4 linked regions of the Homo sapiens genome follow. The protein of the gene in region 4 purifies or fractionates together with the protein of the main gene of each other region. This does not show direct contact. Each region holds a gene or a part of one and is shown on either strand. Other genes may lie near its edges. The genes, in order: PCNX3, ATP13A1, LRP11 and LRRTM1.

Region 1 (7,022 bases), on a different chromosome or scaffold from region 4:
AAGCGGAGGGCCCCCCATGGGGCTGAGGAGGGAACTGCTGTGCCCCCCAAGCGGCCATATGGGACCCAGCGGACGCCTAGTACCGCCAGCGCTAAAACACATGCCCGTGTGCTGAGCATGGATGGGGCTGGGGGTGATGTTCTGAGGCCCCCACTGGCTGGCTGCAAGGCAGAGCTGGAGGCCCAGGTTGGGGTGGAGCAGGCTGCTAGTGAGCCTGTTGTGCTGCCTGCTGAGGCGCGAAGGGGACCCGCTGCCAACCAGCCCGGCTGGCGGGGGGAGCTGCAGGAGGAAGGTGCTGTGGGGGGAGGTGAGTGCTTGCTCTAGAGGCAGGGGCTGGGGGACGTGAGCTACGGGCTTGGGGTTGGGCAAAGGGCAGGTAAGAATGGACCTGGTCAGTGTCAGCTCAGCCTCGGTTGTAGGCAGCAGATGGACGTGGGCCTGGTGGTGATTGACATTGTCTGCCAAACCTCTTAGACATGGGGCTCAGCCACCTGGCTCCACATCCTTGATTAGCACCTGAGTCTCTGTCCCCTGAGGACTCTCATCATCCACACTCATCCTCCCACCACCAGTGGGGTGGGGCAGGGCCGATCAGTGTCATCCTTGTTTGCAAGTAAGGAAACTGAGCATGGGGCTGTGTGACCTGGCTGGGCCTCAGAGCCGGGGCGTGGTTGTACTAGGCCTTTAGCTCCCTGGCGGAACACCGTCCCCAACCTTACTCCCCCAGCCTTGTCTGAGCATCTGTCACTTACACTTGGGGGCCTCTCTCTGGGCAGCGGCCGAGGAGACTGGCAGGCGGGACCGCTCAAGCAGTGTGAGGCGGACCCAGGCCATTCGGAGACGCCACAATGCAGGCAGCAACCCCACCCCTCCAGCCTCTGTCATGGGCTCGCCGCCCAGGTGAGCACCTTGCCAGCTGTGCCGAGGGGCACCGGGGGCCGGGGAGGGCCCGCAAGCTCTAGCTGGCGCTGACCTGGGGCTGACCCTCTCCAGCAGCCTGCAGGAAGCTCAGCGGGGCCGGGCTGCCTCCCACTCCCGGGCGCTGACGCTGCCCTCTGCGCTGCATTTCGCCTCTTCACTGTTGCTCACCCGGGCCGGTGCCAATGTGCATGAGGCCTGCACCTTTGATGACACTTCTGAGGGTGCTGTGCACTATTTCTACGATGAGAGCGGTGAGCCTTTCCCAAGCCCGGTGGCCCAGTGCCTCCCCGCCTTCCCCCAACAGCCTGAGTCCTCCTAGCAGTGGTGCTCGCTCGGCCCTGTGGCAGGTACACTGCTAATGCTGCCAGACATCATCCTTGCAGCCTCTTTGAGGCACGGTGTCTCTGTCATCTTTTGCTCTGCTGATGAGGAAACAGAGGCTCAGCTTACAGTACAGGGGAGATCTAAAGCTAGGACAGGTGACTGCCGCGCCCAGGCTCTTGACCTGTAGGCCCTTTCCTCTCCAGAGGCTGGGCTGCCCTCTCAGAGGACACAGCACAAGGTTCTGCCTCATTTGATGGGTCTGGTGCCCACGTGAGCCGGGCCTTGGTGCTTCTGTCTCTGCCACGCTGCCTCATCTCCCATACCCTGCCCCAGGTGTGCGGCGTTCCTACACCTTTGGCCTGGCTGGAGGCGGCTACGAGAACCCTGTAGGGCAGCAAGGGGAGCAGACAGCTAATGGAGCCTGGTGAGTTCCCAAGCCTGGCCTCCCAAGCCATTGTCTTGGTGGCCTGCATCTCTGGGAAGTTCCCTGAGCCTGGAGTTTGCTCTCTTCCTGCTGGGCTTGGGCAGGGGCAGCTCAGATCTGCAGGGAGAGGATGGGGAGCAGCAAAGGACAGACCTCCTGGGGTCCCTGGCTCCATGACACTCCGGGCAGGAAGTTTCTAGGAAGCCCAGGGCACAGCCTCGACACTCGTGCCAGGGTCTGGGAGGGAGGCACTTCTGCCACCTGACCCCAGCACTTGTCCCTTGAGCCCTGGTTGGTCTCGGCACAGACAGCCCTACCTGCCTGGCCTTGGCCTCGGCCTCGACCCCACCCAGCCCCAGGGCTCGCCCGTGGGGGGATCCTGATGGCTGCTGTTCTCACAGGGACCGACACTCGCATTCCTCCAGCTTCCACTCGGCTGATGTCCCTGAGGCTACAGGCGGCCTGAACCTGCTGCAGCCGAGGCCTGTGGTTCTGCAGGGCATGCAGGTGCGCCGGGTGCCCCTGGAGATCCCGGAGGTGAGGAGCAGCCGGGGAAGGGCCGTGCCAGTGGGGCGTGACGGGGCGGGCAGATCACTGAGTCCGGCCTGCATAGAGAGCTTGCCCAGGTGCCCCAGGAGGGACGGGCAGTGCTGAGTGAGCGCTCCAGGGGCCCTACTGTGTCTGTCCTGATCTTTGATGTTGGCAGAGACTCTGGGTCTGAATGGCTGGAGAAGTCATTTATTTGCTTACTACGAATTCCTTTGGAGTACATTCCTAACTCTGGAGGGTCCCACAGTGAACAGGGGCCATGGGTGTTAATGATGATACTTGCGGAAGTGGCAGTGTTCTGTTAGCAAGCAGGGACCCTGTGATGACTGTGCTGCCCTGCATACACTGTGCACGTGTGGCTGCTGGGGTGCTCTCTGTTAACACTTCCTGTCTCAGTATACTCATTACCAGCGCTCTGTCACTCTTAAGAATATCACAGTTTGGACAGTAAATTTGTATACTTAATCTATTAACACCAGAAGCGCTAAAAATGCGTGAAACGCCATCTTAGAGCTTAAAGAATGATCATAAAAGGGTACCCGGCACCTGACCCTCAAGGCCACAGATAGGTTGGGCAGCCCCCAGAAGCTCCCACCTGCCCGCTTCTGGTTCATTTCTTCCTTGTAACCATGTGGGGTGGAAGCGTGGCCGGCGGCCGCCTCCAGAGGGAAGGGTTGCGTGCCTCTGGCTCGCCATTTTATCCTTGGATCCCAGGGCAGGGCCGGGCCCATAGCTGGGGCCCCACAAGTGCTTGTTGAGTGAAGGATACAACAAATGAGAGGTCAAGTCATGTGCCCAGGGCCTCAGGGCTGGCATTGGCACCTAGGCATGTCCTCAAGGCTGAGCCCTGCATGCACGCTCGGATGGGGTAGTCAGAGTGACAGTGACAGGCCCTGTCTGGGAGGAGGGTAGCATTTGTGCCAGGTCCCAAAGGACAAGTGGACTTCCTTGAGCTTCAGAAGAGGTGGGAGAGTTTGCCTGACTGGGGAAGACAGGCGTGGGAGCGGGTGACTCTAGGCAGCCCCTGCAGCCACTGGGCGACGTCCTGGGAACCTGGAGAGAGGAGGAGCCCTTTCAGATGAAGGGTTCTGGTGGGGTCCAGGGCCGCTAGACAGGGGCCTTTATGTGCTGATGGAAATGGTCAACCAGACCGGTGTGCTGAAGGGGGGTAACAGTAGACCATGTGGGGGGTGGCGGGGCTGACGGCCGCGGCTGTGGGGACTGCAGTTTGACCTGCTGGACCAGGACTCCCTGCACGAATCCCAGGAGCAGACACTGATGGAAGAAGCGCCACCCCGGGCCCAGCATAGTTACAAGTACTGGCTTCTCCCTGGCCGCTGGACCTCTGTGCGCTATGAGCGGCTTGCCCTGCTGGCTCTGCTGGACCGGTGAGTGTCCCGCAGCCTTGGCCCCCAATTCTTGGAAAGCCCCTGGACCTTGGCTCCCCAGACTCTGTACCTGTGGAGGCAGTCATGGCAGCAGAGAGCCTGACTCGGGGGAAGCTGAGGGCCTGTCGTTGGCTGGAGTCTGCAGTGGTGGTTTCTATGGTTCATTTGTGGTGTAAAGGGGTGGCCAAGTGGGTGGTGCTGTATTAAATCTGTTTATTCCAAAGTCCTGCTGAAAAAAACTTTTTTTGAGACGGAGTCTCTCTCTGTCGTCCAGGCTGGAGTGCAGTGGCATGATCTCGGCTCACTGCAAGCTCCGCCTCCCAGGTTCACGCCATTCTCCTGCCTCAGCCTCCTGAGTAGCTGGGACTACAGGTGCCCGCCACCACACCTGGCTAATTTTTGTATTTTTTTTTTTTTAGTAGAGATGGGGTTTCACAGTGTTAGCCAAGATGGTCTTGATCTCCTGACCTTGTGATCTGCCCGCCTCGGCCTCCCAAAGTGCTGGGATTACAGGCGTGAGCTACCGCGCCCGGCCATCCTATTCACTTTTTTTTTATTAGCTTCTGTTGATTTGAAAATCGAGTGCTGTAACCTAGAAAAGCTCACAGACCAGTTATCTCACTTTTCCCATTTCTCAGAGGGGACACAGAGTCCCAGAAAATCCAATAGAGAAGTCAGATGACTTCTACCCAGTGTAGAGAACTTGGGCCTAGAGCCCATGTGGCTTCCCGTCCATCTGGGTTTCTCTAGGCACAGGGACTGGGTGCTGGTCCTGTGTGCATAGCGTGGCACGCCCAAGGCAGCATGCACGATGTAGCCACGTGCAGTTAACTCAGTCTCAGCTGGGGATGGATGAATCCCGGGAGTAATGGCACCCTGAGCTCTCAGCCCTCAATGTCCAGAGCAGGCAAAGATTGGGAAGGAGAGAGCAATACAATGGTCGCTGGAGCAGGTGCTGCCGGGCCGCGTCGTCGCAAAGTTATAGGTGTTCACATCTTCAGAGGACAAGGGTCTGGCATGGGCACAGTCCCAGAGCTGGGCCTTTAGGGCAAGATCCATCTTCCCCACTGCCCCACTGGAAGGTGAGGCAAGACGGGCACGCCCTGACTAGGCTGTCCCTGCAGGACGCGGGGAGTGCTGGAGAACATCTTCGGCGTGGGCCTGAGCAGCCTTGTGGCCTTCCTGGGCTACCTGCTGCTGCTCAAGGGCTTCTTCACTGACATCTGGGTCTTCCAGTTCTGCCTGGTCATCGCCTCCTGCCAGTACTCCTTGCTGAAGGTCAGGCCGGGCTCTCTGTGTTTCCTTCCCCACCCGACTTTTCCCAAGATTGCCCTTCCCACAACTCCAGTTTTAAGGAGTATAAGCTGAAAGGTAGATAATTTGTCTAAGGTTCCCTAGAGCTGGCCAGCTCTTTTACAAGCAAGAAAACTGAGGCTCAGGACAGTTCGGGGGCCTGACCTGGTCACTCATAACTGCCTAGTGGTGGAGCTGAACAGGTCTGGGGCCTCTGACCATCCCGTGGGCATCGGCTCTAGTTGCCAACGTAGCCCTGTCTCTTCCAGAGCGTGCAGCCTGATGCGGCGTCCCCCATGCACGTGAGTACCCATGGAGCAGCGCCTCTGGCCAGGAGGCCCCGGGAGGGGCTGAGACCAGGTGGGGAGGAGGGTAGGGTATGGAGGGCTGGGGCTCCCTCACCACCCCCATCACCCCCACCTGGCCAGGCTCTCCAGCTTGGACCCAGGGCCAGGCCTGGGGCCCTTGAGTGTGTGCATGTGTCAGAGGTGTGGCCAGTCGGGGAGACCCAGCTCCTCATGGGCTGACCCCTCAGGGCCACAACTGGGTGATCGCGTACAGCCGTCCTGTCTACTTCTGCATCTGCTGTCTGCTCATCTGGCTGCTGGACGCCCTGGGCTCAGCTCAGCCCTTCCCACCTGTCTCCCTCTACGGCCTCACGCTCTTCTCTGCCTCCTTCTTCTTCTGTGCCCGAGACGTGGCCACTGGTGAGGCTGGGGCAGGGATGAGGTGGCCCAGGAGAGTGAGTCCCCGAGGGTGGGCCGCGGAAAGCCAGCAGGCTGACCAGGCCTTCGTGTCCCCTCCCTGCCAGTGTTCACCCTGTGCTTCCCCTTCGTCTTCCTCCTGGGCCTCCTGCCCCAGGTCAACACCTGCCTCATGTACCTGCTGGAGCAAATAGATATGCACGGCTTCGGGGGCACAGGTATGATGCCCACAGGTGGCTCAGGGATGGGGCCCGTGTGGAGGCCCAGGAGGGCCCTCGGATTGGGTCCTTGGCTCCACCCTTGCGGAACCTTCTCCTGCGTCTGTACTGCAGACTCAAGGTTTCTGCCTTCTCCCCTCTCCTTCCCTCCCCAGGCAAGTGGTTTATATCTGAGAATCTTGGAAGCTCTAAAGGCCGCTTGGGGCTTGGGGCAGCAGAGAACAATGGGCTGGGGGTGCCTTTCCAGGGAGGCCAGCCTCTGGGAGTTGAGGGGAAGCGCGGCTAGGGTTGAGGTGGGGTACCTGCAAGTGAGAGCTGGGCTGTACTTCTCCCTTCCACACAGCTGCCACCAGCCCGCTCACGGCAGTCTTCAGCCTCTCCCGCAGCCTGCTGGCTGCTGCCCTGCTCTACGGTTTCTGCCTTGGGGCCATCAAGGTAGGGGTGGCTTGCGAGGTGGGGGCATGCTGCAGTGCGTAAGGGTGGTTGGGGCGGGGCTGTGAACTGGGCTCAGCAGTGGCTTCTCACACGGGGGCAGCCCGGGCCCCATGCTTACCTCACCTCCCCTGACCAGCATGGATTCTCTCCGCAGACTCCGTGGCCAGAGCAGCACGTCCCTGTCCTCTTCTCAGTCTTCTGTGGCCTCCTGGTGGCACTGTCCTACCACCTGAGCCGGCAGAGCAGCGACCCCACCGTGCTCTGGTGGGTGTGCTCCGGGTCGTGTGTTTGTGTCTGCCCAGTAGGGGTTTGTGGTCTGTGCATGTGCCCGTGACTGGGGCCGGGGGGAAGGAGGGGCGGCCTCCTCCTGACTCTTCCTCACCCCCAGGTCTCTGATCCGGAGCAAGCTGTTCCCTGAGCTGGAGGAGCGCAGCTTGGAGACAGCCCGGGCCGAGCCCCCGGACCCCTTGCCGGACAAGATGCGCCAGTCGGTGGTGAGGGGGCGGGGGGTGGGGGTCTGTGGGGAGGTGGTGACAGGTCCTGGGGTTCCTGGGAGGGGCATGTCCAGCTTGGGCTGCTGGGCAGCTGAGTGTCTCTCCTGGCCGGGCAGCTGAATGTCTCTCCTGGCCCTGCAGCGTGAGGTCTTGCACTCCGACCTGGTGATGTGTGTGGTGATCGCCGTGCTCACCTTCGCCATCAGCGCCAGCACCGTCTTTATTGCCCTGAAGGTTTGTGTGGCATGGGCCGCTGCTGCCTCTCGCTGTCT
Region 2 (7,022 bases), on a different chromosome or scaffold from region 4:
GGCAAGGAGGACAAAATCACAACCATTCAACCTGGCACTGTGGGACACAGGAGGTGACTCAGGGAGGAGCTGACGGGCCAGGCACATGGTGAAGGCAGGGGGAGCCTGGGCCCGTACCTGCTGGTGAGTGAGGTGTCCCAGCTCCTTGTACCCCAGCGCCAGGACGCGGGCTCCTTCCCGGGAGATCTCGGTGTGGATGTGGTGGTAGTCGGGCGGGCACTGGGAGAACTGCAGGGAATGCAGGGGGATGTCACGGGCTGCCCCGCGCCCCCACCCCTTGCCCCAGGCTGGGGCCAGCTCACCATGGAGTGCAGAGTTTCGGGGGCCCCCTTCACGGCCGCGATGTAGCAGAGGTCGGTGGAGCCCAGCTTCTCATACGAGGCAAGCACGGACATTCGCTTCAGGGCACTGGCAAAATGAAAGCGCTGGTGAATTTTCAGCCCCTGAGTTTTAATACTTCGGGGGAATACTTTCTCATCTGGAAACAAATAAGTACGAGTCCTGAGGGGCTTTGCTCCAAAGAGGCAGCCAAGCCCCTACCTCTCACCCCGGCCTCCCCCACCTCCCTCCTGCCTCCCCCAGGGCCTGATCGGGGCTCTGGGCTAGAGCAGGTGTTGGTCCAGAGCTGGAAGACCTGGGCTTGGAGGACCCTGGCACTGTGGCTTCGGCCAGGGCAGGGCAGATTCCAACCCAGAGGGACACCCAAGGACGTGGCCTATCCTGGGTCTAAAGTGAGCCTCTGGCCACCCACCTCGGGGAGCATCAGAGCTGTAGGCCTGCCTGTCCCCAAGATGCTCTGAGGGGTGCAGCCCACCTGCCTAGGGCTGTGAGAGCCAGTGGCTCCCCCTTGCTGGGCCTGAGGCCCCAGCCCCTCACCTTTGGTCAGCGTCCAGTCCACGGCCGTCAGCATGGCCTTCTCTAGAGGGTCACCCACGAGGGTGCCGTCGTCCAGCTGCATGAGCGAGTGGCACGAGGCCAGGGCCCGGTGTGTTTCTACAGGGATGCTGGACACTGGGGTCACCTCCTTCCCGTCTCTGCAAGGTCGGGGAACAGCTGGTTACAGAGTGCAGGCGGGTAGGGCGAAGCTGCATCCCCACCAGCAGAAGGACCCCCAAGGCCATTCATTCCGTGCTTGTCACTGGGGTGGCTTGGGCGCCAACTGGGTCTTTATGAGACCTGCACCTGCTTCACAGATGCCCCCAGAAGCCAGGCATTGTGCCTGGGGGTCATGTGGTGCATGGCTGGTGTGGGATGTTCCAGGCCTGAGCTGAGCCCCCGTGCCGCTACCATGGCTGACACCCAGGACTTTGTGGGGAGCCCCTGGAAATGAACCCGAGGCAGGGCCTCTGACGGGCCCTCACTGCAAGGGCTTGGGGTGGATGGGCCACCTGTCTCTCGACTTCCCAGAAACCCCATCTGGGTGACCTTTGCTGCAGGGCCCCTGATGCTTACCTCAGCCCGGCCACACCGCGCACCACCAGGCTGTCACTGGTCAACGTCCCCGTCTTGTCAAAGCAGCACACCTCGACCTTGCCAGCAAAGGGGATCCGGAAGGGCTCTGTGCAGTACATGTCTAGGGGCGGGAGTGAGGTCAGGGGTCCTGCTTGGCCCCAGCCCACTCGGCACCCCATCCCATTTGACACACTCACAGAGCTTGGCCAGGGCGATGAGGGAGGTGTTGACGGCCAGGGACAGCTCGATGGGCAGCTCAGGAGGCACGACCGAGGTGAGGATCAGGGTGCACTCCAGAAACAGCTTGTAGCGGTTCCGGCTGGGGTCCTTGGTACCTGTGGAGACAGGGCCTGCCAACCTGGAGCCTCGGAGGGTGGGCGCAGGGGACCACAGAGGCCGTGGCGCTTACCTTCAATCCATACATAGGCAGCTGCAGCGATGGCAAACACCAGGAGGAAGAGGATGAAGATGAAGGTCTCCAGGTTGTTCGCAGTCACCCTCTTGACCCCGAAGAGGATGGTGCGCAGCAGCTTGCCCTGGAGGAATGGAGGAACAGCCTTTCTGCTGTCTGGACTCCCTCCAGCAGCTCAGGCCTGGAAGCGTGGGCCTGGTCTTGGGGTGGCCTCTGCACCCTGGCCCAGGTCCAGGGCCGTGCTGCCAGAGTCAGCCCGTGGGGCAGATGTTCTGGGGTCGGAAAGGGCTGATACCTTGGCTGTCCAACTGCCCTGGGGCCCGCCCTCCCCAGACCTGGCCCCGCACCTGGGATGTGTTGAATCCGGTCCGCAGGACGTAGGCCACGCACCCGCTGTCAACCGCTGGGGAGAGAAGCAGAGTCACCGTCATGCCTGTCTCCTCGTCCTGACTCCCTCATGATCAAGCAGACGGGCAAAGGGGGTGGAAGCCCAGATACCCCCAGACGCCCATGAGGCACCTACGCTTCAGGCCCGTGGTGGCTTTCTGTGGGGGGATGTGCTGCACCACCTTGGTGCCCCCGAAGATGACGTGCAGCCGGGAATCAGCCTGGAGGTCCAGCACCCGGTCTGGGCTGAGGTCTTCGATGGGCTCCTGGGGAGGAAGATCGTGAATCTGGATGGCCAGGCCTACCTTGCTTCCTTCTCCATCTGAGTTCCTGGACAGCTGGACCTTGAGGCTGGAATGAGCCAGGGGGATCCCCACCCGACCAATACATCCCACCCAGCTCCCAGATCCTCACCCTCACCCCGTCCTGTCTTCTCCCCATTGCACTCACAGTGCCTGCTCTCTGGGGCCTGCACTTGGCCTCGTCTGGGACTCACCCCTCTGGACTGCTCCCAGCCCACCTTGGTCTGACATCCCAGGGCACCAATGTACCCTGGATGCCCTTGGCTCTCTCACCTCCTTCCTCGCCCCCACCACCCGGCTCCCCAGTCCACAGAGCTCATCTGTGCCCACACTGCCTCCTCCGCCTGTGCCTGAGGGGGATCCCCGCCACCCCCTGGGCCTCCACCTCCTGGCCTGTTTCCTCCTGAACAGCTTGAGGATCCCCATCCTCCACCAAGTACCTTCATCTGTGGCACGGACTCCCCCGTGAGCATGGCCTCGTCTACGATGCAGCGGCCTCGCAGCAGAAGCACGTCACATGGCACCAGGTTCTCCTGTGGGGAGCGGCCTGCAGGGCAGAGGCAGGAGGGTTGGCCAGAGGCCCTGAGGCTGGGGCTCCCACTGGGACTGAGCGGAACCCGGCCTCACCGATGGAGACGATGTCCCCTGGTACGATCTCATCACTGGCAATGGGCCTCCACTTGCGGCTTCGGTAGACCTGGGCGGGGCATGGGTGTCAGCACAGAAGCCGCACCTGTGCTGCACCCCCAACCTGGGTCTCCCTGGCAGCCACACCTGGATCATGTGGGGCTTGTTGCCCATCTTCCGGATCTCCGACATGTTCCGCATCTGCTGCTGCACCAGCGAGGCCTCGAACGCCACCAGCATGGATAGCGTAAAGACGCTGTAGTACCAGTACTCATCCAGGCACCAGAGCCCCACACAGAACACCTGTGGGATACCAGCCTGTCTGTCCTTGCCCTACCCGCCCTGTTCCCATGAGCCCCTTCCACCCACCGGATCTGATATGTGAGGGTGGGGAGAGGCTTCCAGGTTTAGAAGTGGTGGGCAGGCTTGATCCGGTTAGGAAAGCCCCAAGGGAGGAAATGGGGAGATGGGCCAGAGCTGCTGCTTTACCTGAAATACAAAGAAGGGGGCTGTGGCTCTCTCCTTGAAAAGCTCCGAGAAGTCAGGCACCACCATCTCGGCCCTGCAAGAGACCAGGCCCCATCCTGTTCCCAGGGCAAGGCCTCTGGGGTATGGAGTCTCCACCCTGACCCCTCCAACCTGAGCATGGCAGGCCGCTCTCAAGAAACCAAGAGCCATATGTGGGCGTCGGGAGCCCTGGCGAGCTTCCAGATAGGAGGATCCATTTGGCAGTGGCTCTCCCTCATCCTGGCTGAGCCTGGGGTAGACATGCTGCCCGCCCACAGCCCTCGGCTCTGCATAAAACAGATGAAGCTCCTTAATCTGCAATATGCTCTTCCTGGCAGCCTGGGGCTGGTGTCAGACGAGAGCCCGTCATCTGGTCGAGTGACACAGCAAGTAGAGAAGGAACCTCTGATTGAAAGATGGAGGCCCTGAAGCTACAGACAGCAGAAGACACTGAGACCCAGCCCCACCAAAGCTGAGATTTTCTATGATTCCTGAATTAAAGCCCCAGAATGGGTCGAGTAGGGTGGTTCACGCCTGTAATCCCAAGCACTTTGGGAGGCCGAGGCAGGAGGAGTGCTTGAGCCCAGGAGTCAGAGACTAGCCTGGGCAACACAGCAAGACCTTCTATTTACAAAAAATTTAAAAATTAGCTGGGGGTGGTGGTGTGTGCCTGTGGTCCCAGCTATTTGGGAGGCTGAGGCAGGATGAATGCTTGAGCCCAGGAGTTCAAGGCTACAGTGAGCCATGATCACACCACTGCACTCCAGCCTGGGTAACAGAGTAAGACCCTGTCTCCAAAAAAAAAAAAAAAAAAAAAAAAGGCTCGAGAATGCAAGGACTTGGGCCTAAGGGTGTGTTCTGCAGTACTCTGTGCCATAGTCCAATCTGATCAGGGCACCAGTCATGTCAACGAGGGTCATTCTCGCTCTGCCCTTTAACTGCATGGACGTCTTATGTATGGGATGTGAGAAGAGGAAACCAAAGAGCAACCCCACTGCTATCAAACAATAAGCCCTTCCCTTGTATCTTGCTGGGTACCTTTGCGTTGAGTAAGAACAGCATGAAAGGGAACGTAGTTGCCACAGGCCATTAATGTGACTGGCCAACCTTGGGGTAGGGGAAGTTGCTAAATGTTTCTTATAAATCCTTGTATTAGATTGATAGTTGTAGTCAACATATTTGTAATCTCTGAACAGTGATTAAGTCAGGAAAGAGCTCCCTAGGTGTTCTGTGGGTTTCTGGGTTGAGGACCATCGTAACAAGGCCATGATGGGGTTTGGAGCCCAGTTCTCCGGCTCCCAGCCACGTGTCAGCATTTGCAGTTTTGGTGAAGATGAAGGGAGAGGGTGTGCACCGCACATTGGCCATTGTACTCAGTACAAAAGGGCAGACATGGTCACGGTCTTCCATCACCATTCTGAAGCGCTGAGATGCGTAGACTCGAAACAGTGAGGACTGAAATGTTTAGGTTGGGTGCAGTGACTCATGCCTGTAATCCCAGCACTTTGGGATGTTGATTTAGGAGGACTGCTTGAGGCCAGGAGTTTGAGACAAGCCTGGGCAACACGGCGAGACCCCATCTCTACACAAATAAACATTTTAAAAGAATTTAAAATAAAGCTGTTGCTGAGGAGGGGCCACAGGCTAGACTCCTGTGAAGAACCTTACACTCAAGGTCTCACACCCCAGGGCACGGGCTTCCAGCTGCAGACCCTCTGGGGTTCCTGCCAGCAGGCAAGTTCAGGGGAGACTGGACTTAGAGCATGTTGCTCAAGCGGCATCACAGTCACCTGGGACATTTGGCTAAAAGGGCAGATTTGGCCGGGTGCAGTGGCTCACGCCTGTAATCCCAGCACTTTGGGAGGCCAACATGGGAGGATCACCTGAGGTCAGGAGTTCAAGACCAGCCTGGCCAACATGGTGAAACCCCCATCTCTACTAAAAATACAAAAATTAGCCAGGCGTGGTGGGGGGAGCCTGTATTCCCAGCTGCTTGGCAGGTTGAGGCAGGAGAATCACTTGAACCGGGGAGGCGGAGGTTGGGGTGAGCTGAGATCGCGTCACTGCACTCCAGCCTGGGTGACAGAGCGAGACTCAGTCTCAAAAATAAAAAATAAAATAAAAATAAAATAATAGTAAATAAATAAATAAAAGGGCAGATGCCTCTGTCCCGCTTCCTAGGCACCCTGAATCAGGAGGGGAGCAGGACAGAAAGGCAAAGGTGCTACAGGCAAATCAAGGACTCACTTGTTGCTCCCAAATTTCTTCTCAGCTGCTCGGATCTCTGAGTCTTCCTGGAAGCCTCTGTTGCTCTGATAGTATGAGAAGGCGTTTCCCACAGGAAAGGCCACGGGGAGAAACTGCTTCTTCTCCAGGGCATCGTAGGAATACTTGATCTTCTGGAATTCGAAGGACAGCACCTCAAGCCCGTCTTCGCCCTGCGGTAGAAGGTGTGTTTGCCACAGAGGCCCCTGACCTTGGGGTGTCAGCGCCTGGGAATCCTACTCAAGCCCCTCCTCCAGGAGCCCAGCAGGCAGTCCCTACCTCATTGCGGTGCAGGGCCACGAGCTCCGTGGAGCCATTGTTGGGGGTTGGCACCACCTTCACAAAGGTCGCTTTGCTGGGGTCGTACTCCTGACAGAGACAAAGAAAGCATTGTGGCTTAGCTCTTCTCAACCTACAGTTCCAAGACCCCCCCGGGAGGTTTTGGGTGCAGCAGCTCTATGGGTATATTCTGAAATGCCACTGGGCTCTGGTGCTGCCTCTGTCACTCCCTCGTCTGTCATCAGGACAAACGAGACCATCTTGCTGTGCCTCTGGTGCCACACTTAAAGCTGGGAGCACAAGGCTGGGCACGGTGACTCACACCCATAATCCCAGCACTTTGGGAGGCCAAGGTGGGCGGATCACTTGAGATCAGGAGTTTGAGATCAGCCTCGCCAATGTGGCGAAACCCTGTCTCAACTAAAAATACACAAATGAGCCGGACACGGTGGTGCACACCTGTAATACCAGCTACTTAGGAGGCTGAGGCAGGAGAATCCCTTGAACTGGGAGGCGGAGGTTGCAGTGAACTGAGATTGCAACACTGCACTCCAGCCTGGGTGGCAGAGTGAGATCCTATCTCAATTAAAAAAAAAAAAACAAAAAACCAGCCAGGCACAGTGGCTCGCACCTGTAATCCCAGCACTTTGGGAGGCCGAGGTGGGCAGATCACGACGTCAGGAGATTGAGACCATCCTGGCTAACACGGTGAAACCCCATCTCTACTAAAAACACAAAAAATTAGCTGGGCGTGGTGGCAGGCATCTGTAGTCCCAGCTACTTGGGAGGCT
Region 3 (7,022 bases), on a different chromosome or scaffold from region 4:
CACTCCAGTTTAGATCTATCCAGATTGAATGTCCCTTCCCTAGCTCTTTTAGCTAACGAGAGCTGTCTCTCCTGCATTCAGATATTTAGAAGATGTAGAACTGTCACACGGATGCTTTCCCTTTAAGGGCCCAGGTGACCCTTCTATACATTTTCTCCCATTAGGATGACACTGGAGAGAGGGTTTACAGTGTTTCACAGACATGTTCCAAGTATCAGGATAAAAAACTATCTATATATGTACACACAACATATCCAATTTGTAACTTGGAAAAAGACATGATCATAAACCAGGAGCTCCCAATCTCTGCTCAAGATCCCTGTTCAGCAGTAACAGCCTTTGGTGGTTGGCTTCTGGCCAAATCAATGAATGACTCAGCCTGTTGTCTGACTCAACCCCATCTTCCTAGCTAGGAATTCAGTGGCTAGCAATACACGTTTGGGCTTCTCATATATGTCTAAACTAAATTACACACACACACACACACACACACACACACACACACACACACACACACACACACATTGTATATACTTGGTTACAAAGACTTAGTAATACCTGTCTATTTAAAAAAATTATGTACAGCAGGTAGGCCAGGATGCAGTTAGTTTTAATTTAATAATGAAGTTGTTGGTTTAAATAATGCCCATCCTTTAGCAAGCTTCCTTACGTGTGGTTTTCTGAAGTCACTGCTGTAGACTGAATGGCTGAGTGCCCTCCCAAGGTCACATGTTCAAACCTAACGCCCAGTGTGATGGCGTTTGGAGATACGTGCTCATGAATGAGGTTAGTGCCCTTATAAAAGAGGTCCCATGTTATTAAAAAGTAAAAAACAAAACAAAACAAAAAAAACCCCACCAGATGCTGGTGAGGTTGTGGAGCAAAGGGAACACTTACACACTGCTGGTGGGAGTGCAAATTAGTTCACCCATTGTGAAAAGTGGTGTACTGTGGAAAGTGGTGTGACAATTCCTCAAATAACTAAAAACAGAACTATCATTTGACCCAGCAATCCCATTACTAGGTATATACCCAAAGAATACAAACTGTTCTACTATAAAGACACATGCATGCATACGTTCACTGCAGCGCTATTCACAATAGCAAAGATATGGAATCAACCTAAATGCCCATCAACGGTAGACTGGATGAAGAATATGTGGTACATATACACCATGGAATACTATGCAGCCATACAAAACAACAAGATCATGTCCTTTGTAGGAACATGGATGCAGCTGGAGGTCCTTATTCTCAGCAAACTAATGCAAGAACAGAAAACCAAATACCACATGTTCTCACTTATAAGTGGGAGCTAAATGAGAACACATGGACAGAGAAAGGGGAACAGCACAACGCTGGGACCTACTTGAGGGTGGAGGATGGAAGGAGGGAGAGGTTTAGAAAAAAAACAAAACTGCTGGGTAATATGCTTAATACCCAGGTGAGGATATAATCTGTACACCAAGCCCCTAAGTCATAAGTTTATCTATATAACAAACCTGCACATGTACCCCTTAACCTAAAAGTTAAAATATGTTTAAATATAAAATAAAAGAGGCCCCAGAGGGCTGCCTTGCCTCTGTTGCCATATGAGGACACAGTGAGAAGATGGCTGGTTATAAAATAAGAAATGGGTCCTCACTAGACGCCAAAGCTGATTGTACCTTGATTTTGGACTTCCCAGCATCCAGAACTGAAAGAAATTCATTTCTGCTCTTTAGAAGCCACCCAGTCATGGTGTTTTATTATAGCAGACCAAATGGACTAAGATAATCATTTAGAAAATTTTAAGCAACTGACGAATGTAAATCAATATACTGATTTATGAATTCCAAATCTCCTGAATGTCCTACTTTGTATCATGTTCCTAAATGTCATATTTTACATTCTGACTTCAGATTTAAATGTATTATGTTTAATAACCATGAAAGTCAGCATCATTTAATGGGTTGCCTGAAAAATATGTGTCATCTTGCATTTTGATGTATTATAAATATTCAGTTAAGTGGATGTAAAATATCCTGTTCAAGGGCATAAAATATATAACTTTAAATCCAGTGGATAGCCTCTTGGTTCTGACCAATCATCCATTCTGTCTTCACAAATGAAAAAGACAGATCAGGTGCTGTGGCTCATGCCTGTAATTTCAACACTTTGGGAGGCCAAGGAGGGAGGATTGCTTGAGCCCAGGAGTTTGAGATCAGCCTGGGCAGCATAGTGAGACCTCATCTCTACAAAAAGTTAAAAAAAAAATTAGCCATGACTATAGTCCCAGCTACTCAGTAGGCTGAGGTGGGAGGACTGCTTGAGGCTGCAGTGAGCTATGATTGTGCCACTCACTGCACTCCAGCCTGGGCAACAGAGACCCTGTCAATGAATGAATGAATGAATAAACGAATGAATGAGACAAGTCAGGAACATGAGCTTTCCTGTATGCTTAGTGCCTAGTACAGTACTGGACACATACCAGATGCTTAAAAATTAACTATTAATTGTTTCATAACTAATCTGACAGCATAATTCCTTGCAGGTTGAATACCTGTCTGGGTCACTTGGACATGAAAAGATGGGCCCTAGAAGCTGATCTTAAAGTATCACGAGGCAAAGGGAGAGATCACTACTCTGCCTGAGAACAGACAGCAAGGGTGAGGAGCCCGTGCAGATGGTGGAGAGCAGGGGAGATGAGAGGAGGGATGAATGGCTCAAGAAGAGGAGGAGATGGGCGCTCAGGGGAAAGCCCAATCAATGGACACTCTTGGGTGCTAGGGACAGTCAAGGGACTTAGGAACAAGGGCATCCAATAACAGGTTTTAACTTAACTATTTTGCTGTGTGACTGCCCTCCCTCTATTCTCAACAACCTTCAAACTTAGCCCCATTTTGCAGCTTGAGGGCGGAGTGCATCAGTGTTCCAGTCAGCAGGAAGCCATTCTCAGAGAAAAAGGAATTTGATTTGAGAGGCCCAATTCTCCTGGCAGAAATGTTGGGGTGTGAAATAAGGCTGCTCAAGTTAAAGGGATCAGAGGCATAGCTCCTGAGGGTTAATTACTGTTAAAGGAAAATTCTCAAAATAGTAAAGCTATGACTGTCACACAAATATAATATGAATATTTTTCAAAGACATTAGTTAAAGAGGGAACCAATAAGGTGTTCAACTGATTTAAAGAATCTGAAGACTACACATATACAGGCAATCATGAATGCCAAAAAGAAGTTGCTAGGAGATGCAAAACTGAAATGGGTTTGCTAATCAGTACTGAAATGAATCTACTAATAGATCGGTTAGTATCTACATGTACTAAAATGTCATGTTTGAAATCTTATTTTCTCTAGGGTGAAAGTCAATTACCCCTATATACCTAATTTTCTTTTGCATTTCTATGGACAAGAATCATTTGGTTACTATCAGTTTTCTGCAACTTATAGATGTTAACCCTGAAGGATCCACTAACCAACCCAGCATTCCATTGAAAGGTACTTAGTAATCTTTTGCCCACCTCAAAGTCTTCCACAATGTTTCCTGACAGTCTTCATCCACCAAATGGGGATGTGCCTACAAGTGAGGGTGTCCAGTGGATTACAGATCTCTCTAAGCTGCCTGGCACTCAGTGGGTGCTCAATCCGTGGGGGCTTTGATTATGATGAAGTCTCAGCAGGATGAGTGTTAACTTTGGGTGACATTCATGAATGTATATCATTCTAAGACAGTCACAAATTGGTAACAGATGTTTCCCCTAGTACAGGCCCTGTCATTTAGATGATGGCTTCATAACTTGAGGTCTACCTGCCGTCACTGTTATACACGATTGGGAACTGGTTCAGAGTTTCCTCTTGAAGGCAAGAAAAATGCAGCACGAACCCACTGTGTGATGCAGCTACTGACACAGTTCATGTAACGAAGCTCATTAATAGAAGGAGAGGCAATATCTGGATCACAGTAGGTAATGAATGAGTCAGAAAACCAAAGCTTAAATATGGGGTTCAATTAGGGGTATTAGATGTTAAGAAGGGTATGGATTAATATGAGAAAATCCAGACAAGGCAGGATAGTGGCGGGCCTGAAAAATCAATTCATATGAGGAACATCTGACAAACTGTGGGGTGCTGAGTTCTGAGAACAGCATACCAATTGGTGATGTTCTTTCTTTCTTTCTTTCTTTTTTTCAAAGACTTCCAAAGCTTTTACACAGGATAAAAAGATGAGTTCAGTGTTTTTCCAAAGGGAAGACCCAACACCAATGCACAGAAGTAAGGGGAGGCGTAGCCTGCTTGCCCAACACAGTGATGAGTAATGTCATGGACATGATGTGAAGTAGTGAGCTTCTGCCCTTGGAAAAGTCAGACAGATGGCAGATGAGCCTTGGAAGGGGTGTTGTGGAAGGCACTCTTGTTTGGAGGAGAGGCTGGGAAGGATGCTGGGTGTATTAGTCCATTCTCACACTGCTACAAAGAACTGCCCGAAACTGGGTAATTTACAAAGGAAAGAGGTTTAATTGACTCATAGTTCCACATGGCTGGGGAGGCCTCAGGAAACTTACTAGTATAATCACCGCAGAAGGCAAAGGGGAAGCAAGGCACCTTCTTCACAAGGTGGCAGGAGAAACAACCAAATACTTATAAAACCAGCAGATCTTGCGAGAACTCACTCACTATCATGAGAATAGCATGGGGGTGACTGCCTCCATAATTCAGTAACCTCCACCTGGTCTCTCCCTTGACACGTGGAGATTATGGGGATTACAATTCAAGATGAGATTTTTGGGTGGGGACAAAGGCAAACCATACTGGACGAGGGTGAGTCCAATTCTAATGCAATATAATCAGGGAGTAAAATCACTCTTACTTAAACCAGTGATGAGGGACTTCCAGATTTGTTTTTGTTTTGGTTCCAGTAGAGTACAAATCAGTGCCTCCTTACCTCACCCTCTTTCTCCACTTCCTCTAACTGAAGTGGTTTGGATGCAGTTTATCTGCCTAAGCCAGGAAGTGCTTATTTGCCTAAGCCAGGAATCCACCCTGAGAGGGTGAATAAAAAGCCACTTGTCTCACCACCCAAGACTTCCTGAGCATAGGCAGCCACCAGCCACATGGCTGATTTCCATCGGCGGCTATCCCAGGAGCCCCGGGCAGGAGCCCCGGGCAGGAGCACCGCATGCTGGCCTCCCTCCCTCACAGGCTCGGTGTGCCCCAGCAGACCTAGCTGCCAGGTAAGCTGTCTACTTTCCGGCTCATGTGAAGGATAAGTTCATCCTATTGTTATTGTCCTCTTTAGACTCCTTTGTAGTTTCAAATTTTCTACCTGGATCTTGAGCTCAGAAAAAGAAATAGAACTTTAAAAAAGTAATCTGAGTCATTAAAACAAAGCATGAGCCTTCTTCCTTGAAGTGTCTTTGTCCTCTAGACAAGTCACAAACAGCAGCTAGAAGGAGGGTAGGCTCCAAGACAAATGATCGAGATTGCTGCTCACTCTCAGCAGAAAAGCACATTGAGATAATAAACCATTTTGGCATAATCAGTTTTATACAGTCTCCATTTTATGCCTTCTGCTAGCGTACAGACATTTAGGGAGCATGAAGTGGCAGGACATTACAAAAGACCACTTCACTGAAATACTCGTTTTTGTTAGCAGTGACAACATGCGTTACCTTCATGTCCACTGACGGGTCCCCCTGCAGCAGTGCCCACTCATACTGGACGATGGCGTGGTCATCTGTGCTCTCGCGGCCGTCTAGAACCACCCCGTCTGTGGGCAGATGCAGAACCACATCCTGCCCAGCCTTGCTAAGTGGAGGCGCATCCTTTTCTGAGAAAGAAAATAAATAATTCATAAAAGATGATTTCTTATTTTTTCTAATTTATGGAGAGGTATCTTGTTTGCTGAATAGATATGATTCGGCAAATAACTGCTAAGAGAATCCATATTAAATGGAAATTATTTTTCTATTTATTTTATGATCGTGGAATTTAGCTATAATATGCGCAGAAGAGGCTGTGTGGAGTGTTGGCTGGTAGCGATTTTGGGTACAAGGCAGCATACGAGGTCCCACCAATGTGTAAATATGGAGAAGCAGTTTTATTTTCTAGAGTGGATTTTTCACTTAATTTTAAAATCACTTAAGTTCAAAATACTGTTAAATAAATTTATTTTAAAAGATTATTATTATTTTGAGATGGAGTTTTGCTCTTGTCACCCAGGCTGGAGTGCAATGGTGCAGCCTCGGCTCACTGCAGCCTCTCCCTCCCGGGTTCAAGCGGTTCTTCTGCCTCAACCGCCCGAGTAGCTGGGATTACATGTGTGTGCCACCACATCCTGCTAATTGTTTTTTGTATTTTTAGTAGACACAGGGTTTTGCCATGTTGGCCAGGCTGGTCTCGAACTCCTGGCCTCAGGTGATCCATCTGCCTCGGCCTCTCAAAGTGCTGGGATTAGCAGCGTGAGCCACTGCGCCTGGCCTTGAAAAGATTATTAAAACAAACCTGAAAAACACCAAATTCACCTCTAATATGGATTTTCTTTTTTTCTTATCCTCAAGTTTTAAAAATAGGAGTGATATAAAGTATTCAATGAATGGGAAATATATTAAGTTTGAAAAGTTAAGGCAAATTTTTAGAGCCATACAAAATAAAGCCTGCATGTAAATTCTCTGGAATCCAATTTTTCATCTAGGAAAATTGAAGACGTTCACCGTTTCTAATAACTAATTTTTATAATAGAAGCCAGCAGGCTCAGATGACTACAACAGCAAAATAAATCTGTATTTACCTTTGTTTTTGTTTTGTTTTGCTTTTGAGACAGGGTCTCTATCACCCAGGCTGGTGCACGATCATAGCTCACTCACTGTAGCCTCCAACTCCTGGGCTCAAGTGATCCTCCTGCCTTAGCCTCCCGAGTAGTTAGGACTGCAGGTGTGTGCTAACCTTCCCACCTATTTTCACTCTTTTGTAGTGAGAGTTGCCCAGGCTGGTCTTGAACTCCTGACCTCAAGTGATCCTCCCACCTCAGCCTCCCAAAGTGCTGGA
Region 4 (7,395 bases):
TCTGACTACGTTGCTCCTGGATTTTCCTTCTGGCCCCTGGACAACTCCCTCCCCACCCACCAAGGAAATTTTAACTGTTGCTTTTCTTGTAACACAGGTAACAATTCATTTAGGTTACACCAGTCTGTAAAAACTGTAAATGCTATTTTATTTTAAACATTTTAGTTTACAAAAAAAAAAAAAATCAATGATTGGTACCTTTTTTACACTCTCAGATTCCTGAATATGGACAGATCTTCAAAGGGAGGAAGGAGTTCTCATATGAAATTTAAGATAGACTGTCCTGAAGGTTGTGGGGTGGGGTTTTTTGTTGTGTTTTAATTCGCTTTTGTTTTTAAGACACAATAAAGCTAAAATGTCAAGTCTCTGGGAGAGATCCCCTTAAAGTTTCAGTCAAGGAGCATATCAGAGCACAGACAAGGAGACCCCAGCCTGGTGCCCGCCGGCCCGTCCCGGCTGCCCAGGCGTATTTGGTAGCGCATGGGTTGAGAGCCACTGGGACAATCACACCTCGCATTCCCTCGCGGGCTGCTGGTGGCAGGTACACGAGCCATACTCGTTGATGATCACCAGGGCTCCCTCAATGTGGTTCGGTTTGTAATCAACGTAGTATTCCTGGGCAGACATGGCAGCCATCTGATGCATGGTCTGTTTCTGCTTTTGCTTCCTGCGCTGCGTGACAAAGCACTGTCTGAGCTGCCTGAGGCTGGCTGGGAAACACTTCCAGGACACGTAGAGCACCAGGACCACGATGAGGAAGGAGAAGATGAGGGCCATGGTGCCCGTGACCACCTTGTGGATCTGCACGGCGTTCTCGGCGTGCTCGCCGCCTGGAAGAGCCACGGTGGCAGGCTCGAATGTGCCGTCGTGCTGCCCCTCCCCGCCGTCCGCGAGCGTGGTGGCCGAGCTGGCAGGGGGCCCCAGATCACTGCGGTTGGTGACGGCCGAGAGCAGGTGGCCGCTGGTGGGCTCGGCCCCATCCTCGCACAGGTGGAAGGCGTACACGGCGTCCAGGACGTCCTCGCCCTGTGCGTACTCCGGGCTGGCGCACTGCAAGTTGCCATCGTAGCGCCCCTGGAAGTTGTTGAGCCACGAGGCTAGGGCACACACGTTGCGCCCGCAATCCCACAGGTTCCCGGCCAGGGTGATGCTTGTCAGGGACTTCCAAGAGTTGAGGATCCGGGGCTCGATGTAGGTGAGGCGGTTGGAGTCCAGCTGCAGGGACTGCAGGTGCGGCACGGTCTCGAACACATGGGGCTCCATGTACTCGATCTCGTTGCCCGACAAGTCCATTTTCTCCAGGTTCCAAACCCAGTCCAGCGAGCTGACCACAATGGCCACCTTGTTCCTCCGCAGGCAGAGCGAGTGCAGGGAGATGAGGCGCGGGAAGTGGGCGAAGTTCACCTTGACCAAGTCGTTGTGCTCGAGGTGCAGCTCGGTGAGCTTAAACAAGCCGGCGAAAGAGTTGCGCGCCAGACTCTTGAGCTGATTGTATCCGATGTCGAGAAACTTGAGGCTGCGGCAGTCCTGGAAGATGCGCACGGGCACAAACTGGATGGCGTTGGCCCGCATATGCAGCGTGGTGAGCTTCCGCAGCCCGTGGAAGAGGTCGGGCGCGAGCGCCTGCAGCTTGTTGTACGAGAGGTCCACGCTGCGCAGGTTGGGCATGGGCCGGAAGGTGGTGTTGGGCAGTTGGGTGATCTGGTTGGAACTCAGCGTGAGTTCCTTAACTCGGCGCAGTTTCTGAAAGGCGTCCCCCTGCACGGAGCAGATGTGATTGTGATCCAGATAGAGCCACGTGAGCTGCATTAACCCCGTGAACTGGCCGGCGCGCAGCTCCGAGAGGCTGTTGTAGCGCAGGGACAAGCCCAGCAGGCCGGACAGGTTGTGGGGCGCCTCGGTGAGGTTGAGCGCCTCGCAGTACAGCAGCCGCCCCTCGCACCGGCACAGCTGCGGGCACCCGCTGGGGGCGGCGGGCAGCATCTGAAAGCAGGCCCCCAGCAGACACAAGACCACCCCCGAGGGCCTCCTCAGCAGCCAGTATAGACAGAGACCGAGCAGCAGGAAATCCATTAGCGAGAATCTTTCCAGAGAGACTGGAGAATGTCCATTGGAAGCGCTCGGTCAGAAATCTACATCATATTTTATTCCGAGGGAGGGGAAGCGGGGGAGGGGGAGAAAAGGGCAAAAAATCAAATAAATACATAGAAATAAAGAAGGACCCCCCTCCCCAAAAACCACACGTTCACCTCTAAGCATGCAGAAAGCTGGGCAGCATAGAAAGTTCACAGCCACGGAAAGATCAAAGAGATGGTGATTTGGTCCATGTTAGATGCTGCAGCAAAGAAAAGGGAGGAAAAAAAAAATCTTCGGGAAAGAATTTAATTAAAAAGTGTCTTACCCACCCTTTTCCAGAGAGTGACAACCTCCATTCAGCTGCTCCCTTTGTGTGCAGGCTAATTATATGCAGGGCGAGAGAAGACCCCTCTGTGTTTCCGAGGCAGCCCCGGTCCGCGGCCGGCGGATCTGGCAGGCGCACAATGTCTCACTTTGCTGCTCGGCTCGGGGCTGCAAGGGCGGCCGGCAAGGCGGGGAGGCGACTTCTAGGACCCGCAAGTTTCCCAACTACGTGCCGGAGCCCGAGCTTCGCCTTCCTGCCGCCTTCCTTTCCCTCTGCAGTTCGGACTGTGACGTTGTGGGGGGAAAAAACTCCAAACTCGGGGCTCGCGACTCCCCAGGATCTGACAGTCTGGTTAATGTCCGTCATTGGAAACGACCACTGACCGGCGCCACCTTTTACTCCGCGGAAACAGCCTGCCATTCGCGCCCCGGGCAGCTGCAGAGAGCGGGCTCACTCATGCTTTGCGGGCGGCGGGCGGCGGGCGGCGGGCGGTGGGGAGGTGCGGACGGCGGCGCGGGGAGCGGCGAGCGGCGCCCGGGCTCCTTCCCTCCACCAGGCAGTGTGCGGCGCGAGCTTGCACAGGCACCTACTGCTCACTGAGTGTCGTAAGCTGCTCACGATTGTGCGTCTTCCCCGAGCACCTCAGACATGGGCAGATTGAAAAGGGGTGGGCATAAAACCAACATTTTACCGAACCACTAAAGTAATATATGTTTTTTGATGAAACGGAAAACACTTTCAGCTTTTTTGTCCATATTTCAAAAAAAAAAAAAAAAAAAAAAAGGAGGGGGGAGGGAGGTGGAGGTAGGGGTAGCATCATCCACGACAAGATATTTCCAAGTGGGAAACTGAAATGTTCTGTGCTCTCCCCCTTGCCTTTTGGGGATATATTCTTTTCCCCTTTAAAACTGTCTACGTGTAAGAGATACGTAGGAATCTGTAGAGAAATCAACGTTTGGACCTTTGCTTTAGAAAAGCAACTTGAGAGAAGACACAGGAAGGCAATGATTTGGGGCTTGGCTAAGATTTTTGGGGTTTTTTCCCCCTCTTGCGGGTACTGGAATTCTGCAGTCAGCCAGCCCTTTTTTGAGGTGGAGAGGGGAAATGCTTTCCAAACCCACCTAGTTTGGGAAGCCATCCAAGTCCCGGTGGTGTGAGATCCAGTGTGGCAAAAAGGTATGTCTGTGTGCAGGGAGACTTGACTGAGATCCCTCCGGGGCTTCATCAGGCTCCACAGATACATATGGGGTACAGAGTGGATTAAAGAACGATTGTACTGTCTGACATGGGGAGGGCTTACCCTGACTTGTGCTGTTCATGGTGATTACTGGGCCCTGCAGTGCACCCCACTCCAAGAGAGTGTGAATGTGTAGGGACGTGATAGTTTAAGCCATAATGAAGCCTACCCGTCTCCATACACACATCCTAATTAATCTTTGAGACTGCACTAAGTTGTGCCACTTTTTCCTCTGAGTATGACGAGAAGCCTTTGCCTCATTATTTCTATTCATAATCATTTATAGATAGGAGTCCTTACAATGAGCTCTCCCCCCACCTCCCCACACACACACCTTGTGCCTACTGGTCTGTAGAGGGTCTGCCCTGGGGAGGGTCAGTTGGTCATCTGTTTAAACAAAGTCCTCCAAGATGGCTGAGAAAGCCTGCGGGAAGTGAGTGTGGGCAAGCCTTCCTTCTTGACAAAGATGCCCAGGGAGATGGTAGGGAGAGTCAAATGTGAGTCTCCAGCTCCACTGTTTGAATTCCCATCGTTTCTGCCTCTAAGGAAGTCAAAATCAGTAGGCATTATATGTAGTGGCACTTACTTTGATAGGAATGAGGGTGGATTACCAGAGCCAGGGTAGATAGACTGGACAAGTAACTGGATTGGTCCTTAGCATCTAAGCTGAAGAGGCCAACCAATGGAATCAAAGTCACCAAAGACTGGTGGTACTTTTCAGGAAAAGTCATATGAACAGGGGCATGAATCATTCCATTTTGTATTCATCTGAGCTCTGCCCTGGTCATTCATCTCTGAGATGTATCATTTAATTGGAAGGAACACAAATCTGAAATGTCCTAGACATCACATGCTGTCTTAGGAGTTAGAAGAGACATTAGAAAATCAACCCCCTTAATTTTGCACGTGACTAAACTGAGGCCAAGAGACATCATGGTTTATCCAAGGTCATACAGCTTGCAACTGGCACAGATGGTTTTTTCTTTCTTTCTTTCTTTTCTTTTCTTTTCTTTTCTTTTCTTTCTTTCTTTCTTTCTTTCTTTCTTTCTTTCTTTCTTTCTTTCTTTCTCTCTCTCTCTTTCTTTCTTTCTTAATTTGCCATTCTTGATGATTGCCTCTCTGTCACTCTTGCTGCCTACCTAACTCTGGATCAGGCATTTGCATGTTTCATCCTGGCACCTCCAAGGTGCTGCGGAACACTTTAACAGACAGACAAACAAATTCACCATCAAGTGGTTTCACCTCTTGCCAAGACAATTATTCGTGACAGCAGGCCAGCTGATGGAGCCATAAACTCTAAAGGGTTGGGAGGTGGGGGAGGGGTGTTGAGGAGGCACCCGCAGGGTTAAACAGCGGCCAGCCATTCAGCGAGTACTGTGAGTACACACCACCCAATCCCTAGGGTTGCTAGGAAAAAAAAAAATCCTCCTAATGCTGGCTGCTTGGCAAAGTGGTGACAGAGGCTGCCAAATGGGCAAGAAGAGGTCCCACTTTGGATGTCACTTGATTTGTAGAGCTGGTGCAGAGAGGCAGAAGAGTTGAGTGTTGGCAAGAAAGAAAGGGAATAAAATTAAATTCACTGATTTATATGTGAGTTTTCTTCTAAGTGTGCTACTCAAAACTTACAAGATGCTCCTAGGCTGTAATTAAAATAAATAAATTATATATATATATTATATATAAATATATATTTTCTATATATTGCTTTTTGCATTATTATCCTGCAAATCATTTCATCTATATGGTATCTTTAAGCCTTTCCCACCTCTAATGTGGCAAGTTTGCATCTTTTCTACAGTTTTAAACCCCTTGGCAGAACCGTATACATTAACAGATTGAAATGAGCTTTATTGAAATTTAGCTATTCTAAGTCATCTAAGTTGCAGAATCCCAATTTATTATGTATTTAAAGCATACCAGCACTGATTAAATCAATGCAAATTAGGTTAAATAAGAACAACATGAATCGAGTGTTTCAGCAAAGTTGAATCGAGAAACGACAACTTTTGAGTCACCACAGCAAGTCGATATGGCTGTTTTTCATGAGTTTTAATTTCATGCCTGTAAGTGTCCAATGAACTAAAAAAGGAAAAAAAGAAAAAAAAAGCTCACCTGAAGTTTTTTTTCTTTCCTCCTGCTTATTCTCTCATATGTCTGTACCTGTCTTTTGAAAATATCTGATTCACCAGGTTACAATGTAGCTATTGCATGTACTGGATCAATCTCTTCTTCCCGGGTGACCATAGATTTCTGTTGGCAAACTTCTTCTTCAAATGTTGTATATTGGATAAGAGATGCTTTATATGCTTTGAAAATACCCTTGACATTTTCCATGTTTGTCAGGGGAAGGAACCTGAGCTCATCTAGCTGAACCGCTATAGCTGCAAGTCTAGTACTAATAGTTGGGCATCAAGAATACCATCCCAAGCCATCATGCCAACATGTGATTGGGCACTGAGGCCAGACCTCCAGTTTGGGGTAAGAAATGATAAGAATCTTGAAAATATGGATTCAGCAAATGGGAAGGAAGTCTGGGTTATATGAGTTATGAATCTGATGGCCAAACATAATCTGGAACTAAGGGGAGGTAGAAGAGAGAAGCTCATGGAGCAAATTCGTTGTAGTTAGAGAGGCCAGAAGTATAGCTTGACGGAGGGAAGAGTCGATTAATTCCTTCTCTCTTCAACCTTGTAAATTAGCCTTTGCCTAATGAGCCCTCCTGTTTTTCGTGGTACTCTATGTTGTGAAGTGGAGTGGGGGAGTAACATACAATTTTTTTTTTGGTATGTCATTACTTCTGTTTTATCTCAACACTTCCAATTTGTTCATTTTAGTCAAAATAATTTGTGAACACAGAGGTGCAAGTGCAGAAAGTCTGAAATGAATCTGCATTCTGGGGATTGGCTTTCCATTAGCAATCTTTGTCAATGTTCAAGGAAGGAAATTTGAGTGATTATTTTAATGTTCTGTCATCGCTAGCACCAGCCTGGACCTTGATCTTTATGCTGTTGTCTTTAATTTTCAGTGGCAGCGAACCATGGCTTTTCTTTAAAAGGAAACCTTTAGAAGAATTGGCGGAGAGTGGGAGTCACAATTTCAAAAAGAGAGAATTAACTTTGTTGTTTCTGTGGGCACATACCATACAGCTGGCATTTTACAGAATGCTCAAAAGGTGCATGGAGAGGCTGAGGGTGGGGGCCCCAAGGCTGCTCTCAGGAGATCCACTTAGGAGAAACAAATTAGAAATTGAGGTCATTCTACTTATCAAACTTTGTCCAACTCTTAAAGCAACGTGGTAACATGGATAGCAATAAGAAACTAACTGCCATGCTCTATGAATGATGTAAATGATGAGAATAAATAATAAAAGAAATAATAAATGAATTAATAATAATAAATAGAAATGCAAGTTCTCCTGGGCATGGTGACTCATGCCTGTAATCCCAGCACTTTGGGAGGCTGAGGTGGGCAGATCATCTGAGGTCAGGAGTTTGAGGCCAGCCTGGCCAACATGGTGAAACCTGTGAAACCCCCTCTCTACTAAAACTACAAAAATTAGCCAGGCGTGGTGGTGGGTGCCTGTAATCCCAGCTACTCAGGAGGCTGAGGCAGGAGAATCACTTGAACCTGGGAGGTGGAGGTTGCAGTGAGCCGAGATCACGCCACTGCATTCCAGCCTGGACAACAGAGTGAGACTCTGTCTCAGAAAAAGGAAAAAAGAAAAAAAAGAGAGAGAGAGAGAGAAAGAAAAGAAAGA

The links.
Region 1: the proteins of LRRTM1 (region 4) and PCNX3 purify together in Homo sapiens (affinity purification with mass spectrometry; 2 studies listed by BioGRID and IntAct, with this or other methods). This does not show direct contact.
Region 2: the proteins of LRRTM1 (region 4) and ATP13A1 purify together in Homo sapiens (co-immunoprecipitation; 3 studies listed by BioGRID and IntAct, with this or other methods). This does not show direct contact.
Region 3: the proteins of LRRTM1 (region 4) and LRP11 purify together in Homo sapiens (affinity purification with mass spectrometry; 2 studies listed by BioGRID and IntAct, with this or other methods). This does not show direct contact.

The regions. Positions count from the first base shown.
Region 1 is NC_000011.10:65,618,761-65,625,782, forward strand, and holds part of PCNX3 (pecanex-like protein 3), read left to right. Parts: coding exon 1-307; intron 308-776; coding exon 777-900; intron 901-993; coding exon 994-1,172; intron 1,173-1,578; coding exon 1,579-1,669; intron 1,670-2,070; coding exon 2,071-2,206; intron 2,207-3,445; coding exon of another isoform or gene 3,446-3,484; coding exon 3,485-3,606; intron 3,607-4,730; coding exon 4,731-4,884; intron 4,885-5,168; coding exon 5,169-5,201; intron 5,202-5,434; coding exon 5,435-5,606; intron 5,607-5,710; coding exon 5,711-5,821; intron 5,822-6,164; coding exon 6,165-6,256; intron 6,257-6,410; coding exon 6,411-6,520; intron 6,521-6,644; coding exon 6,645-6,750; intron 6,751-6,866; coding exon of another isoform or gene 6,867-6,891; coding exon 6,892-6,984; intron 6,985-7,022.
Region 2 is NC_000019.10:19,653,667-19,660,688, forward strand, and holds part of ATP13A1 (endoplasmic reticulum transmembrane helix translocase), read right to left. Parts: intron 6,322-7,022; coding exon 6,232-6,321; intron 6,126-6,231; coding exon 5,935-6,125; intron 3,743-5,934; coding exon 3,670-3,742; intron 3,484-3,669; coding exon 3,328-3,483; intron 3,251-3,327; coding exon 3,181-3,250; intron 3,101-3,180; coding exon 2,994-3,100; intron 2,518-2,993; coding exon 2,388-2,517; intron 2,268-2,387; coding exon 2,212-2,267; intron 1,989-2,211; coding exon 1,862-1,988; intron 1,788-1,861; coding exon 1,650-1,787; intron 1,574-1,649; coding exon 1,453-1,573; intron 1,035-1,452; coding exon 877-1,034; intron 479-876; coding exon 303-478; intron 229-302; coding exon 118-228; intron 1-117. UniProt on the Homo sapiens protein: Endoplasmic reticulum translocase required to remove mitochondrial transmembrane proteins mistargeted to the endoplasmic reticulum.
Region 3 is NC_000006.12:149,847,356-149,854,377, forward strand, and holds part of LRP11 (low-density lipoprotein receptor-related protein 11 isoform 1 precursor), read right to left. Parts: intron 5,837-7,022; exon of another isoform or gene 5,806-5,836; coding exon 5,648-5,805; exon of another isoform or gene 5,629-5,647; intron 5,210-5,628; exon of another isoform or gene 5,059-5,209; intron 1-5,058.
Region 4 is NC_000002.12:80,301,747-80,309,141, forward strand, and holds LRRTM1 (leucine-rich repeat transmembrane neuronal protein 1 precursor), read right to left. Parts: upstream 3,007-7,395; 5' UTR 2,406-3,006; exon of another isoform or gene 2,250-2,405; intron 2,133-2,249; 5' UTR 2,074-2,132; coding exon 505-2,073; 3' UTR 132-504; downstream 1-131. UniProt on the Homo sapiens protein: Exhibits strong synaptogenic activity, restricted to excitatory presynaptic differentiation, acting at both pre- and postsynaptic level.